Linked DNA regions of Homo sapiens. The gene in region 1 interacts genetically with each later gene. Each region holds a gene or a part of one and is shown on either strand. Other genes may lie near its edges.

Region 1 (3,500 bases):
GTAGAGACGGGGTTTCACCGTGTTAGCCAGGATGGTCTCGATCTCCTGACCATGATCATGATCCACCCACTTTGGCCTCCCAGTTTTTTTTTTTTTTTTTTTTTAAATATAAATCTACTAAAAGAACAAGTTGGACCATAAGCTGTGAAAAAATCACACTGCGAAGAGAGAAGAGAGGTTCACACTATTCAGCCCTAAAAGACCACAGCTGGAAACCAGGTCAGGAGAAGAAAATCAAGGGAAATGATGGATGAGGAAAGGAAGAGATGGCAGAACCTGCTGTCTTCGGATAATTGAGGAGCTGAAATGCAGAAGGGAGATTTTTTCCCTCTGGTACCCCCAGAGCACAGAACACTGTAAATTGTGGCTTCAAAATAAATAACTTTCTAACACCTTCAATATTACCAATTGGAATGAGTTACTTTATTAGGTGATACATTCCCCTTTGCTGGAAAGTCCTTGGGTTGATGAGGAACAGCTATCTTGCAAAGATATGGAGGGGAGTCTTGTCTTTAAGCGGAAAGCTGGATGAGGTGATTTTTAAGACCCCCTATGTTTCAGTTTGCGTTCCCTTAAAAATAAAGCATGAGACAAGGGTTGGACGCAGGATGCAGGAAGTCTATCAGGGAGGTGACATCAGGAAGTGGGCAAGTGGGAAAAGCAAAACAGGGACAGAAGAGCCAATGAATCATATTGTTCAACTGTGTGCAACGAGGCTCACTCCTGCTAGAAACCCTCTGAAGAACCATGTAGCATGCATTCCAGAATGATTCTTGAAGGAAAGAAGACTGGGACAGTTATCCACCAACTCCAAAACCTCCTTGGTTGACAGCCATTAACTCCCCAGCACTTCCCAGACCACAGCCAGCTGGCTAGGGAAAAGCTCTTCCACCTTCTTTTCCTGACATGGTTTCCAGCTGTGGTCTCAAGTATGCATCAGAACAGCCAAGTGCTGGAGGTGGGAGCTGCAAGCATATGCGGGGCTGCTGCTGAAACACAGGAGGCCACGGGGGTGGGCATAACACCAGGGGAAAAACGTGCGGCCATGCCTTCGAAGTCCCAGTTTTTCTGGTTTAAAAAATGCAAGACCCTACAGCACTCCTGGCTCACCACTATAGCTCAGGTTCTAGCAGAGGTTACTGGGGGCATCCCCAAAATTGAGACCTCAGTGTTGTGACACAGGGAAACGATTTCAGGTCATATATTATGTTAAAGAGTTGACAAGAAATAAAAATCATAACACATAAACCAACCTTATGATCTCATAAACAAGCAACCCCCTGAAGAACACAGCAAACCAAAGCATCCTGTCTACCTGGCAATACGAATTTGCTTACTTCCCATTTTTGATACCTTCTCGGCCATACATTTTGTACATTCTAACATCTATAAAATGGATGTCATAACTTAATTGGTAGTGTTATTTTTCTTAGTGGTATATAAAATAATGATGCTTCTTACTAATTATGGTGTTTTAGATTTGATGGAACACACCATTCCTGATATTTTCAACTTAAAATATTCAATTCATTTGCTGGCCAATTGAAGACCAAAACAATTCCCTATCACCAAAGTTTAGAAAAGCTTCAACTTTAACATTTTCTCCAGAGGAAAAAAACAGAAATGTAAAGAAATTACAATGACTACTGATTAAATGTAATAAAACTGCCCCCTCAAAGAGGCCTAGAGAATTGCTGTTATTTAAAATGACTGATGATTAATGATAAGACACATATTAAATGAAGAGGATAATAAGCAAGATTCACCGATGGCTTCCTAAGATATTAGTTAAATTTTACCAAAGGCAATATTCATTTTAGATTTCCTGAGAGAAGTCATTCCTCATGGACAGTTTTTAAAGATAGCTAACTTTCTAACAAAGAGTGCTAGAGAATGAGAGTGTAATTAAAGAATTTGCTTGTTCTTATCCCCTGAATTCCCTCCCACTCCTTGAGGAATAATAACTCTTACAATTAGACAGACATTGTTAGATGCATATCCTGCAGGTTGCCTCCTCAGGCATTCGGCACACAAAGCATTCACTAGATTGGTTTAGGAAGGAGGTATACTATCCTCAGCAGGAAGAGACCCAAGAGGTGACAGACAAAACAACACACTGGGCAGATGGAAAGCTTATAGATATTCCAAGAAACCTGAGACTGGTAAAGGAATATCCTTATACAAAGTAATTCTTCTATAAGTGCTTTCTAAAAGTTAGATCTAAGTAGCTATTTACTCTAAGTAAAAGCATATACTAGCATTTTAAAGCCCAAAGACAGAAAAAAACATGAAGTGGTTTATTGAAATAGAGGTGAATACCCCAAGCTGCCAACAACCCTTAGGTGGAATTAAGAGATCATCATTTTTGTATTAATGGGAACTTAATTTTAGACTATGCCTTTCTAGTTATCTCCTTCAATATCTAAGTCTATCAGTAGATATATCTATATCAATGTTATACAAAGCAAAGCTGAAGCCAGGGATATAAAATGACTTCAATGAAAATACACAGTCCTGGGTGGAAAAAATCCTGGTCGAAGCATTAAAAATTATAGAAAAGTTGATAAGCCTGATTTATGGGTATCACTGAACATTTTTTACTATGAAATTTATCTATAAGAAACATGCAAATTAAAACATCACCTCTACGGCTTCCCAGGCCCATTTCCTGTACTTTGGATCATGAGTCAGTCTCCACATATACATGTAAGTCTCCATAACTTCTGGCCGTAAGATGTAGTATTTTTCATTTTGTCTTGTAGCGATGGCTTCAACACCACCATCAAATCTGAAAGCTTCTGGTCCCAGTTTCATAACTAAAGGACATGGAATGAATGAATAAGGGTTATTTTCCTGGACAGTGCTTACAGTCAATAACTTAAATGAAACTAGAAAGTACAGTCATCCCTCAGTATCTATGAGGGACTGGTTCCAGGACCCTCCGAGGATAACAAAATCCATGGATCCTTGAGTCCCTTATATAAAATGGCAAAGTATTCGCATACAACCTGGGTACATCCTCCCATATACTTTAAATCACCTTGTTTACTTATACTACTTAATACAGTGTAAATGTTATGTAACTAGGTGTTATACTGTATTGTTTAGGGAATAAAGATAAGAACAAAAACTCTATAAATGTTCACTACAGACAGAACCATCCATTTTTTGGGAACATTTCTGATCTGCAGTTGTGGAACCCAGGGATACGAAGGTCTGACTGTACTTTAACAACACTGAAGAGAAATGTCAAAGTAGTCATTTTAAAAACGAGTTATAAACATCATGTAATATATAATATTCATATACTTAAACAATTTAGTCATTGAAAAGAGTCCATTTTAGAAAATATTAACAATTTATTTTTTTCATTTAACCCCCATTTACTGAGCACCCACCAGGCAGATACAAGGCACCATGAAATACCATTTGAGTTAGCCAGAAACTTAGTGGTTGACAATCCTAAGTAATTTCGTAACAGAAGGCCAGTTATTTACACT
Region 2 (3,528 bases), on another chromosome or scaffold:
ACATTCACCCTTACTCTTTTTAACTTCTCTACCATTCCTTCACATTCCTCCATTTTATTATTTGCAGGATAGCAATGATAGGATTCATATTTACCTCACTGGATTTTTATGAGACTTAAAAGACCAAATGCTTTGAATAGTAAAACATGAAATTAAAAGGGCTAGGATCTTTATTTTTATGTAATGGAGGGATGAAGATGGAGCACAGGAGAGTTTTTGGAAAGTGAAACTATTTTGCATAATATAGTAATGGTGGATACATGTTATATATTTGTCAAAACCTACAGTGCTTGACTATAGTCCCAGATACTTGGGAGATCGTTTGAGTCCAGAAATTTGACTTCAGCCTGGGCAACATTAATGAGACCTGTCTCTTAAAACAAAACAAACCAAAAACCAAAAACAATAAAACATACAACAAAAAGTGTGAATTCTAATGTAAATTATAGACATTAGTTAGTAATCAGTGTCAATATCATTTCATCAATTGTAGTAAATGTACCACATTAAAACAAGATGTAGGCCAGGCACAGTGGCTCACGCCTGTAAGGACAGCACTTTGGGAGGATAAGGTGGGCAGATCGCTTGAGGTCAGGAGCTGAAGACCAGCCTGGCCAATATGGTGAAACCCCATCTCTACTAAAAATAAAAAAATTAACCAAGCGTGGTGGCATGCACCTGTAATCCCAGCAGCTTGGGAGGCTGATGCACCAAAATTGCTTGAACCTGGGAGGTGGAGGTTACAGTGAGCCTAGATCAAGATCATGCCACTGCATAGAGCTGGACTCTTTCAAAAAATAAATAAATAAATAAATAAATAAAAATAAAAATAAAATAAAAAACAAGACGTAAATAACAAGAGAAACTGTGAGGAGTGGAAGAGGGTATGTGGAAACTCTACTTTCTGATGAATTTTTCTATGAACCTCAAATTCTTTAAAAAAAGTCTATTAAAAAAAAACCCACTGAAGAGCAATGGATGTTTAGAAAAACATGTATCTTTCAAAACAAGGATAAAGACTTCATAAATTAATATTTACCATTCTCCAGCTTGGCTGACTGAATTTAATTCTGTTACATTGTACATAATAGATGGCTCCAGTGAAACCTTCTCCATAAACATAGGTGAGGTTGTCATATTCTGAATCTGGGCTTCCAGAAATACTTCATCAGTCTGAGGATATGAAAAAAATATCCACCAAGGTGTGGTGGCATTTAAAATATTTATCTCAACAAAAATATCTTATCTATATGAAGAAAAAATATTAACCACAAATGTGATTAGTTCATGCCTGCAAATCAAAGTTACCACAATTAATGCAAGAAAAGAAATCTTCACCCTATCATAATTAACAGGGGCAAAGTCAAGTGTTAGTCAACTGATACCTTGTCAAACAATGGATGGAGGATAACTATATTTTGTCTTAACATCCCAAAATACTTAACTGGAATTTCATTTACAAATACTCTTTCTTTTCATTAGGTATTAAAATATTAAAATGTGCTTTAGTATGATGAATATACCTATGCTCCTATAATTTCAGTATTACGTTAAGATAATTAAGTCTTCATTATAATATGGCAGTATAACTTTGATTGTCATATTAATGCCAATTTAGATAGTGTAGTGACCACTAATACTATGAATAATCTATTTTGTAATCTTGAAGGATTTAACTTTTTAAATTAAAGCAATTTGCGAGTGGTCATTAGTGATTTCTTAGTTCATTTTAAATGTATATTGAGGGCTAAAAAAAGAATATGTGGATTATACTTCACCATCGTAGAGCTTTTAAATCAGGCAAAAGGTATTTTGTAGCCTCAGTGACAGATTTTAAAGCTGATGCTATTTAGCAATATTTGCCAGTAGGTAATTTTAATAATTAGATAAATTAGATAATTAGATAAATTTAGATAAATTAATTCCCCTAATTATGCTAAACATTATTTTATGCTATTTGGTTATTATTTTCCTTCATGTAATTGAAGGATAACAGACTAACTTGATTTATCTTTGAAACAAACCTACATGAAAAATGATACACTAAGGGTATTCAATAATTTTTTTCAAAAGTTTCATAGTAATATGTTTACTACACATAAATAACATAAAATCAACTATGACCAGAAAAATTTGCCACTTAAGAGCTTTTTATTTTTTTGAGACAGTCTCATTCTGTCACCCAGGCTGGAGTGTGGTGGGGTGATCTTGGTACACTGCAACCTCCGCCTCCCGGGTTCAAGGGATTCTCCTGCCTCAGCCTCCCGAGTAGCTGGGATTATAGGCGCGCAATATCATACTGAGCTAATTTTTGTATTTTTAGTAGAGACAGGGTTTCACCATGTTGGCCAGGCTGGTCTAGAACTCCTGACCTCAAGTGATCCACCCACCTCGGCCTCCCAAAGTGCTGGGATTAGAGGTGTGAGCCACTGTGCCTGGCCTATGAGCTTCCCCCAACCCCCACAAGATGGAGTCTTGCTCTGTTGCCCAGAGTAGAATGCAGTGGCAAGATCTCCTCTCACTGCAACCTCCACCTCCCAGGTTCAAGCGATTCTCCTGCCTCAGCCTCCCTAGTAGCTGGGACTACAGGCAGTGCCACCATGCCCAGCTAAATTTTTGTATTTTTATTTATTTTGAGACGAAGTTTCACTCTGTCACCCAGGCAGGAGTGCAGTGGTGCGATCTCAGCTCACTGCAACCTCTGCCTCCTGAGTTCAAGTGATTCTCCTGCCTCAGCCTCTCAAGTAACTGGGATTACGGGCAAGTGCCACCATGCCTGGCTAATTTTTGTATTTTTTATAGAGATGAGGTTTCACCATGTTGGCCAGGCTGGTCTCAAACTCCTGACCTCGTGATCCGCTCGCCTCGGCCTCCCAAAGTGCTGAGATTACAGGCATGAGCCACCGCGCCTGGCTGAGCTTTTTAAACACTAACACCAAGAAAATGAAAATCATTTGCAAAAATATAATGATTAAGTTATAATATAATGTACTATTATCTAAAATAAAACAGATTCTTTAGTTTTTGGGACATGTGTTCAAATGAAAATAGAAATAAAATGATTTATCAGTTTAAAAAAATGCATCATTTAATGGCATTTTTTGGTTACTGGTTCTAAAAAAAAGTACATATATCCCATCAATCCATTGCTTTTAAAAAAATAACCACAGACCCACATTTCAATTTAAAAACTGCAATTTTCTGCATAAATTTAGGAAGAGCTTAGATAAAACGAAAGAAAAACAAGCAGCATAATGGAAAATCAAGTTAGTTTGAACAGTTAGTGTAAAGCAATTTGATATTTTAAAAATTAAGAATTCAGTGCTAAGGCAGTTGATGTTATTACATATGTAATGTGATATAAGCAAATGCTGCTTATTGTAAATATAACTTTGAAAACAAAATTTTAGCCAAGTTGGGAAAATTTGCTTTTCTTCTGTTTCATTTTGTCAAGCGGCCATCATCACCTGACCCAGACTTAAAACTAAAACCACTGTGCATCTGAAAATGAATTTCGATTATACAGTC
Region 3 (3,528 bases), on another chromosome or scaffold:
AAAGCATATTATACTTAGAAAGGGCCAGGTAACAGTGTACCACCTTTCACATGCCTTTCTTTGCCACTGACAGAATTCTATTACTAGGACTAGGTTTGGGTTATGATTCTAAAGTGTACCCTGTCAGCAATGCTAAGATCTCTGCATTCCACTGCATACCACTTCTGCTTAAACTGGTGTTTTGCATATAAACTGGTAACAGAGCTGTTCAGGACAGAAGCGCCAAGGCTCTTTTCCAGATGACATTCTAGAGCCAAGAATGAAAAGAGCAAACTTCTTCTTAAGAGCTAGACAGTAAATATTTGAGGCTTTGCAGTTATTTGGTCTCTTGCAACTGTTCAATTCTGCCACTGTTGCACAAAAACAAAAGAGATGGATCATTGTCATTGTCTATCTCTTCCTCAGCCTCCTGCAACTTTATCTTCATTCTAACATCAGTCACATTTGCCTTTCTCCATTTTTTATTGCCATCACCCTAACCTAAATTTTCATCACTCAAACAAACCTAAATCAGCAATAGGTTCCCTACTCTCATTTTTCCCTAATCAAATTCACTGTCACAAACAATACATAAATACATGGGCAAGGCTGTGTTCCAATAAAACTTCCTTAATTTGAATTATATAATTCTCATGTGCTACAGTATGTTCCTCTCTCTCTTTTTTTTTTTAAACCATTAAAAAGTATAGAAACCATTCTTAGCTTGCAAACCCCTGACACTGAGCACACCAAGCTTGTGCTTGTGTTGGAGGACTTCATTAAGAAACCTTTTCCTCAAAGGCCAGTCCAAGAGCATTCAATGAGGACGGTCCCTGAAATATAAACACTAAGGTCTCCCCTGTGCGATAGAAAACAAAGAAGTTCCACTGCAATCCAACCCTACCTGCAGCATGGACAACCAGACCCAGCGTGGTGGTGATTTTGGAATTGCTAGACCTTGCTGCTTCTGGATCTAAAGTGAAAATGAGAAAGACAGCGTTAAGCTATGTGAGACAGAAACTGTTCAAACATTGGTCTGGAGGTGAAAGAATTTCACTAATGTTGGCCAGGCTGGTCTCAAACTCCTGACCTCCAATGATCCGCCCGCCTCACCCTCCCAAAGTGTTGAGATGATAGGCGTGAGCCACCGCACCCGGCCACTATCTTTTTTCTTTCTGCTTCAAACCCTTAGAAGATTTCCCTGTCCTGAAGAGGTGGCTAAGAGGGAACTCTTCATTTGACTCAGCCCTACCTTAACAGAAAAATCACTGAAATGTGTAACCCCCAATGGCCCCAACTTCCTCCTATTCCTTAATCCTCTTCCTCTACTATTCCAAGGAAAGTGATCTATGGCCTCTGATCATTTCTTTCCAGACCAATCTAATTGTCATTGTCTATCTCTTCCTTAGCATCCTGCAACTTTATCTTCATTCTAACATCTGTCACATTTTTATTGCCATCACCCTAACCTAAATTTTCATCACTCAAACCTAAATTAGCATCAGGTTCCCTACTCTCATTTTTCCCTAATATAATTAATCTTACACATCCGTGTCAGATTCATCGTTTGAAAACACCACCCTTGGCCGGGCACAGTAGCTCACACCTGTAATCCCAGCACTTTGGGAGGCCGAGGCAGGTGGATCACCTGAGGTCAGGAGTTTGAGACCAGCCTGACCAACATGGTGAAACCACGTTTCTACTAAAAAATATAAAAATTAGCTGAGTATGGTGGCGGGCGCCTGTAATCTCGGCTACTTGGGAGCTGAGGCAGGAGAACTGCTTGAACCCAGGAGGCAGAAGTTGCAATGAGCCGAGATTGTGCCATTGCCCTCCAGCCTGGGCAACAAGAGTGAAACTCCGTCTCAAAAACAAACAAACAAAAAACCCACCACCCTTATGATGTGTCAGTTACCATTTAAGAATCTGCTGCTTTTCAAATTCAGGGCAAACTGCTATATTAGATAGGTTCTTAAGCCCTTTATCAACTAGTTCCAACTTATTTCTCAATGTCCAGTCTAGTTAAACCAGTTTGCTTAACACCATCGAACAAAACCTTCTTATTCTCCTTTCCCCAAGTCTCCTCACCTGTAATTCTTGGCACATACTGAACTTCTCAGCTTGTTAAGCCAAAACTTGGACATCAATCAAAGTCTAACTACAGAACCACTTCCCTCAAGAAAGAATAAAAAATTGAAGACTAAGCATGGTGGCTCATGCCTGTAATCTCAGCAGTCTGGGAGGTCGATGGGGGAGGATCACTTGAGGCCAGGAGTTTGAGACCAGCCTGGGCAACATCACAAGACCCTATCTCTACAAAATTTTTAAAATTTAGCCAAGTGTGGTGGTGCATGCCTGTAGTCCCAGGTATCTAGGAGGTTAAGGTGGAAGGATCACTTGTGCCTAGGAGTTTAAGGCTGCAACAAGCTATGCTCATGCCACTGGACTCCAGCCCGGGTGACAGAGCAAGACCTTGTCTCAAGAAAAATTAAAAATAAATTTAAAAAATTGATTCCAGCTCAAAGCAACTCTCCCCTTGCCTAGACCTAGTGATCTATGCAGGCAGTCTTCAAAGGTTCCTCTATACACCACCTCAGATATACAAAGCCATTTTCACTTGAATGTTTTCTATCCCCAGATGGACTGTAAATGCTAAAGCATTAAATTTTCTACCTCTCTTTTCCTTTAACATGTCTGACAGAATGTAGCACAGCACTAGGCACCCAATAGTTACTTAATAAATCCTTGCTGAAGAGTGAAAAAAGCATTTATGTGTATTAAATAAAGATGTTACTGCTCTTGTAGGAAACATACAAGTAAATAAAGTTAAAAGATGGGGACATCAAAATGCCAGGTAAAATGACAGATGAACATCAGTCAAGTAAGTTACAGGGGATTTAATCTTCTTAGGAGTCCAGCATACAAAAGGAAGGGGTTTACAATGGAAAAAGTATACAAGTAAAGTAAGATATTACCTCTTATTAATAAATGATATTTTCCTATTAAAACACTGCAAAGAAGGGAAGCTAAAGACCCTAATCACTCTGCGCCAGCAAATAGCTCAATGCTACCCTGAACTGGAAGGAACAGTCAAATTACACTGTGTGCAAGCTGGCTCTGGCCTTTTTTTATACAAAGGCTTATCATCCAGTTATACTTAGGATCTTAAACAATTAGAGGCTTTAAAATTAGAAAGTTTTTATAAACCTATAAAGACTGCAGTTTAGCATAAATTTAATAAATACATTTTATTGACATTTTATAATACATAAAACTCTGCAGAAAATAGGTAAAACCAGGTCATCAGACACGAAAGCCAGCAAAAATAATGACTTCAGAGATAAAACAGGAAGAAGAATAATGGAACACAAGCTACATTTAACTCTCTGTATAGGATTACTGGCTACTACTGCGCCCACACATTTTATTTTTATTTTTTTAGAGACAGAGTCTTGCTTGTTGCCCAGGCTGGAGTGAAGTGGTGCGATCACAGCTCACTGCAGCCTCGAACTGAAATGATTCTCCCTCGCATCTCAGCCACCTGAGTAG
Region 4 (2,285 bases), on another chromosome or scaffold:
TAAATGACACATCAGCCCACCCATAAGGTCCATCTCAGAAAGAGCTAAAAAAGTGTCCATCTTCCTCAGCCCCTAGGCTGTGACCTACAGCTCCTCCTTCATCTTCCTCAGCCCCTAGGCTGTGACCTACAGCTCCTCCTTCATCTTCCTCAGCCCCTAGGCTGTGACCTACCGCTCCTCCTTCATCTTCCTCAGCCCCTAGGCTGTGACCTACAGCTCCTCCTTCATCTTCCTTGGGGCAGGTGGAGATGATTATATCCCCTCCCCTGCCCTTACTGCGTTTCTGTCTTGCATTCTCCCTGAGTGGACAGTCAGGTGGCCAGGAACCATGTGGTTAAATTGCCTTTTTGTTCTTTCCTGGTGACCTAAGGAAGAAATGAGGTAAAAAAAAATTACTCTGGTAAAAAAAAATCAGGCTGATCCATGCTGAGGAAATCAGTAGCCTTAATTAGAAAGTAGAGAGAAAGCAGGCTGGGTGTGGTGGCTCACGCCTGTAATCCCAGCAGTTTGGGAGGCCGAAGCAGGCGGATCACCTGAGGTCAGCAGTTCAAGACCAGCCTGGCCAAAATGGTGAAACCCCGTCTCTACTAAAAATACAAAAATTAACTGGTCATGGTGGCGCGTGCCTGTAATCCTAGCTACTTGGGAGGCTGGAAGCACAAGAATTGCTTGAACCCGGGAGGTGGAGGTTGCGGTGAGCCAAGATTGTACCACTGCAGTCCAGCCTGGATGACAGAGCAAGAGTAGAGAGGATTTTGCAAAGGCAAAATCCAGAGCCAATCCTCATCATATAATCAGCCTGTAGACAGGGAGCTTACAGTGCATAGTAGCCTACCCATTTAGTTTGCATATTTGACTTCATGTATTCTTTGGTAAAAAATTATGGAATGCAGATTATGTAGAGGATACAACACAGCACCTCCCCAAGGAACTCAGTCCAGGAAAGAAGACAGGCATTTTCCCTTCTTTAGTTCTGCCTACATCACTGTCTCCATTATATAAACCCCTCAGACTTAGAGGGCAGGAGCCACATCTGTTACCACGTCCTTTACAGCTCTTAGCAGGTAGAACTGTAATAAATGTGCCTTATGGAAATAGAAAAACCAGGAATAGAACAAGCCATAGATGAAAAATGGCTCCTCCTGCCCATTTCCAGAGCACAGGGAAGCAGAGAGCCCCAGCTTGGCGTTCCTCTTTTTTTTTCTTTTTGAGATGGAGTCTCGCCCTGTCACCCAGGCTGGAGTGCAATGGCATGATCTTAGCTCACTGCAGCCTCCGCCTCCCGGATTCAAGTGATTCTCCTGGCTAATTCCAGAACAATCCTGGCTAATACAAAAATTAGCCAGGCATGGTGGCACATGCCTGTAATCCCAGCTACTCAGGAGACTGAGGCGGAGAATCACTTGAACCCAGGAGGCAGAGGTTGCAGTGAGCCGAGATCATGCCATTGCACTCCAGTCTGGGCAACAGTGCGAGATTCCCTCTCACCAAAAAAAAAGATAAGGACCTTCCCTGGAGGAATGGATAGCCTCGAGTATGCGGGTGGGTATGTGTGGCCTGTCAAGACATGAGGTAGATTCCAGTGAGAGGCCCAGGATGGGATGGGGGAGAACGCTCAGTGGGAAGGTCTGCTGGGATGGGTAGGGAACATGGTAGGAGGGACGGGCTGTCTGAGCAGAGATGAAGGCTGGATGAAGAGTGCAGCCGGTGGGAAGGCTTTCTTTCACTATGGTGGTAGTGACATGGTGGACCACGGAGATGACGGGCTGCTGGGTGTGAGGAGGTCTGGTAAGCCATGGTGTTGGAAGAGGTAGAGGTCAGAAAGTGGTGAGGGTGAGGACAAAAATAAGCAGCCTGCATGTGCAATCTGGAAAGAGATCTTTCCAGATCTCTGTGTCTCAGGCTGTCCGAGAGTCCTATCAGCTACATTCTCTTCCCTTGCCCCTTTAACTAAGGAGGCGCTGATTAGCATGTCTTCCTGTCCTTCCCTAGGTTTGGGTTTGTACAAGATAAATATTCTGCCTCTGCTTTTAACTTCCCTGCTGAGAACAAGCCTCAGTATATCCACGTTACAGGTGAGGAGCTACGGGCAGAGTTGGGCAGGTGGGTCCACATCCCTTTCCTTGCACCAAGCCTATGGCTGCAGAACCACCTCAGCAGGCTCCAGGAGCCCTCCTGGTGGCTGCCACACAGGCGCTCCCCTTTCTCTTCAGGAACAGTGTTTCTGCAGCTGCCCTACTCCAAGCGCAAGTTCTCAGGGCAGCAGCGGCGGCGGCGGAACTCCA
Region 5 (3,528 bases), on another chromosome or scaffold:
TTCACCTCACTTCTACAAAACAAAATTAAAAAACATTAACTGGGTGGAGACCAGCCTGAGCAACATAGGGAGACCTCACTTCTACCAAAATAAAATAAAATAAAATAAAATAAAAAGACATTAGCTGGGCTTGGTGGTCTGTGCCTGTAGTCCCAGCTACTTGTGAGGGTGAGGCAGGAGGATCGCTTGGGCTCAGGAGGTCAAGGCTGCAGTGAGCCACGATCGCACCACTGCACTCCATCCTGAGCAAGAGTGAGACTTTGTCTCTTAAGAAAAAACCAAAATAAAACTTAAAATGGACTTAAATTTAGTTTTTTAAAGAGGCTAGGGAAATAGAAGTGGGGAAAGAAAGGGAGTAAGAATTAGGGATGGAAAAGAAAAGAGAATCAGATAAAGGATTATGCAGGCTGAGAAAGACATAGTTTTACTTGGTTTTCTTGAAAGAGCATTGTCTCCCTAAGTACTCCTTATTGTATCAATTAGAGAATCTGTGCATCTCCCAGTGGGCTCTGAGACTAGGGCATGTGCAGCAGGTGCTTCTCCAGAAAGACTGGTACTGCCCATATGCCTTCCCCATGCGGCGCTGGACTGGATGAGGAGGGCTCCTAAAGGGCACACAGAGAAGGACGGTGCTGTGTGCCGTGGGCCTCTTCCATGCTCAGCCTCTCAGAAGTGGACAGTGGAGTTGTCCACAAGCTACTTAGGCCTGACATCACAGCAGACTGAATGTAGAAGCTGATAGAAGATCCAGCTGACTTGTATTAACTCTGATATTAAAGAAATGTGTGAACATGTCAAATAATGCCATTCCTCCAGTACTTTATTTTTGTTTTGGAAAACAATTATTTTTCATAAAACTGTTAACACATGACAAGCTTATTATTTTATTTTTTATTTTTATTTTTTTGAGTCAGTCTCACTCTGTCGCCCAGGCTGGAGTGCAATGGCGTGATTTCAGCTCACTGAAACTTCCATTTCCCAGGTTCAAGCGATTCTCTTGCCTCAGCCTCCCGAGTAGCTGGGGCTACAGGTGTGTTTTATCATGCCTGGCCAATTTTTGTATTTTTAGTAGAGTCAGGGTTTCACCATGTTGGCCAGGCTGGTCTTGAACTCCTGACCTCAAGTGATCCACCCACCTTGGCTTCCCAAAGTGCTGGGATTACTGGCATGAGCCACTGCGTCTGGCCTATTTTAAGAGGAATTAATACATAAATACTTAAATCCTTTTCTCAGTTTTATTTTCCAATATGGTAAATATCTACAGGTGTAACCCACATCACAAAAAAAGCTCTTTGTGATCCTAAGTCATTTTTAAGAGCATCAAGGAGTTTTTAGACCAAAAGTTTAAGGAGCACTGAGTTAATGGATAAAGATGATAGAGATGAATACTGTGGCACACCTTCTAAGGCATGTGGCATAGCTGGAGATTATTAGGTTGTTACGTCATGAGAGAAGAACGGACTGTGTAGCGAGTTAATATGGCTGTTTTTGAGGAAGAGGGAGGACTACAACCTCAAAAGGAGCAGATGCCTATGGGGTGCATGGTCTGGAAAGGCATTCTGGTCTTGCTTTGGTGCTATTACTGTGAAATATTTTCAATCCAGGGCACTTTCTGTTATACATCTCTGTAGCTCCAGAACCTGGCGCAGTCTGCCACACAGTTTGTGCAGGAATGCCGGCCACGTGAATGGATGAACGCAGAGGCTGGCCTGTTTTACGTGTGCAGTCAGCCCTGCAGGGAAACCTTGAGTGTGGTGAGAGTGTTCTGCATTGCCTGCCTGGACATGGGCATGGGAAAGACAGGTGGCAAGTTCCCATTTGCAAAAAACTAGTGATCTTTAGGTTTGATCTTTGTTTTGGGAGAAAAATTGGCATTTCCAAATAATCCACCTGTTTAAATCATTGTTAGTTACTGCAGTTTGAGCTAATGAAGGGTCACTGACTTGACTAATGATGCTGGTTTTTGTTTTTTGTTTTCTGGTTTTTGTTTTTTGTTTTCTTAATGCCCAGCTGCCCTGGAAGGATTGTGTTCAGCTTCTGTCATCTATCACTATCCTGGTGGAACTGGTGGGAAGAGTGGAGCTCGGAGGTTCCAGGGCAGCACCCTTCCTGCTGAAGCAGCCAATAGACACCGGCCAGGTGAGCTCTGCCCTTTTTCCGGCCTCTGCTCACTTGCAGTCTTTAAATAAAGCAGACTCATTTGTTACTTTTTCCTTTGAGTTAGGACTAATATTTAAATAAACTGTAAAATCTGTTGAGTCAGTAATTTTTTTTTTTTTTTGAGACAGAGTCTTGCACTGTTGCCCGGGCTGGAGTGCAGTGGCGCAATCTCGGCTCACCACAGCCTCCACCTCCCAGGTTCAAGCAATTCTCCTCCCTCAGCCTCCTGACTAGTTGGGATTACAGGCGCCCGCCACCACACATGGCTAATTTTTTGTATTTTTAATAGAGGCGGGGTTTCACTATGTTGGCCAGGCTGGTCTCGAATGCTTGACCTCGTGATCCACCCGCCTCGGCCTCCCAAAGTGCTGGGATTACAGGCGTGAGCCACCATGCCCTGCCCAGAAATCTTGTATGAGACATTTTGTTCTGATTTTATTGAATACTTTCAATCTTACTGAATACCACTAATGGGTTAGAATGATTGGTTGATTTCTGGAATACTTGTGTAAAATTTCCTGGTAGAACAGACTTGAGGTTCTGTGTCTAAGTCTTTTTTATAATTTTATGTATTAGGAGAAGCTAGTCCCAGAGGTCAATTTTAATAAGCTGATTCAGGGCCTGGGAGCAGTTTCTTATTTTATTGGCTGATGACATTCTCTCAATGAGTTGTTTGATTTGCTTATGCTTGGTAGAACCAATGAAGAGTGAGAAAACTTCTTGGGTAGAGCAGACCCACGAATGCTGAATGAACATGAACGTTTTGGTCCTTGATGAATGAACCTGCCTTTAATGGCTCAGGATTTAGTCATCATGTTGCATAGGTCACAAAGAAGGAAGCAACAAAATAATGAAAGCAGGGATTTATTGAAAACGAAAGTACACTCCACAGTGTGGGAGTGGGCCGAGCAGCGGGCTCAAGGGCACGGATACAGAATCTTCTTGGGTCTAAATACCCACTAGAAGTTTCCCATTGGCCACTTCATGCTCACCTCTTGTAAATGAAGTGGTAGCCTGCAGTTAGTCTGATTGGTTGCGGAAAGCAGCCACTCAGAGGCTAAGGTGAAGTTACAAAGTTATGCTTCTATGCAAATGAAAAGTAGACAAAGTTATACTTCTCTGCAAACTAAGACTCCACCAGCAATCAGTCTGAGTGGTTCCGGACAGCCAGTTTCCCACCTGCCATGCAGAAAAGGTCAAAGGGAGCAGCCTCTGGTCCTTTTGTTACTTAGTCATGGAAAGTTAGGGTTTTCCTTTCAATGTAGTTGTAGGAAGTCTGTGTGAAACAACCTTAAGTTCTTTGCCTCTAGATCCTATTCTTCTGCCTCAGGCTTATCTTTTTTGTGATTGAGAAAATTTTGATTTTTT

The links.
Region 2: changes in MAN1A1 (region 1) and TRAPPC13 together harm fitness more than expected from each alone (negative genetic interaction), as found in Homo sapiens cells (one large-scale study listed by BioGRID).
Region 3: changes in MAN1A1 (region 1) and SLC39A9 together harm fitness less than expected from each alone (positive genetic interaction), as found in Homo sapiens cells (one large-scale study listed by BioGRID).
Region 4: changes in MAN1A1 (region 1) and DEPDC5 together harm fitness more than expected from each alone (negative genetic interaction), as found in Homo sapiens cells (one large-scale study listed by BioGRID).
Region 5: changes in MAN1A1 (region 1) and TRAPPC9 together harm fitness more than expected from each alone (negative genetic interaction), as found in Homo sapiens cells (one large-scale study listed by BioGRID).

Annotation. Positions count from the first base shown.
Region 1 is NC_000006.12:119,185,762-119,189,261, forward strand, and holds part of MAN1A1 (mannosyl-oligosaccharide 1,2-alpha-mannosidase IA), read right to left. Parts: intron 2,817-3,500; coding exon 2,644-2,816; intron 1-2,643. UniProt on the Homo sapiens protein: Involved in the maturation of Asn-linked oligosaccharides. Progressively trim alpha-1,2-linked mannose residues from Man(9)GlcNAc(2) to produce Man(5)GlcNAc(2).
Region 2 is NC_000005.10:65,656,013-65,659,540, reverse strand, and holds part of TRAPPC13 (trafficking protein particle complex subunit 13), read right to left. Parts: intron 1,174-3,528; coding exon 1,040-1,173; intron 1-1,039.
Region 3 is NC_000014.9:69,450,665-69,454,192, reverse strand, and holds part of SLC39A9 (zinc transporter ZIP9), read right to left. Parts: intron 953-3,528; coding exon 884-952; intron 1-883. UniProt on the Homo sapiens protein: Transports zinc ions across cell and organelle membranes into the cytoplasm and regulates intracellular zinc homeostasis. Participates in the zinc ions efflux out of the secretory compartments.
Region 4 is NC_000022.11:31,903,992-31,906,276, forward strand, and holds part of DEPDC5 (GATOR1 complex protein DEPDC5), read left to right. Parts: intron 1-1,992; coding exon 1,993-2,075; intron 2,076-2,213; coding exon 2,214-2,285. UniProt on the Homo sapiens protein: As a component of the GATOR1 complex functions as an inhibitor of the amino acid-sensing branch of the mTORC1 pathway.
Region 5 is NC_000008.11:140,433,723-140,437,250, reverse strand, and holds part of TRAPPC9 (trafficking protein particle complex subunit 9), read left to right. Parts: intron 1-2,010; coding exon 2,011-2,139; intron 2,140-3,528. UniProt on the Homo sapiens protein: Functions as an activator of NF-kappa-B through increased phosphorylation of the IKK complex. May function in neuronal cells differentiation. May play a role in vesicular transport from endoplasmic reticulum to Golgi.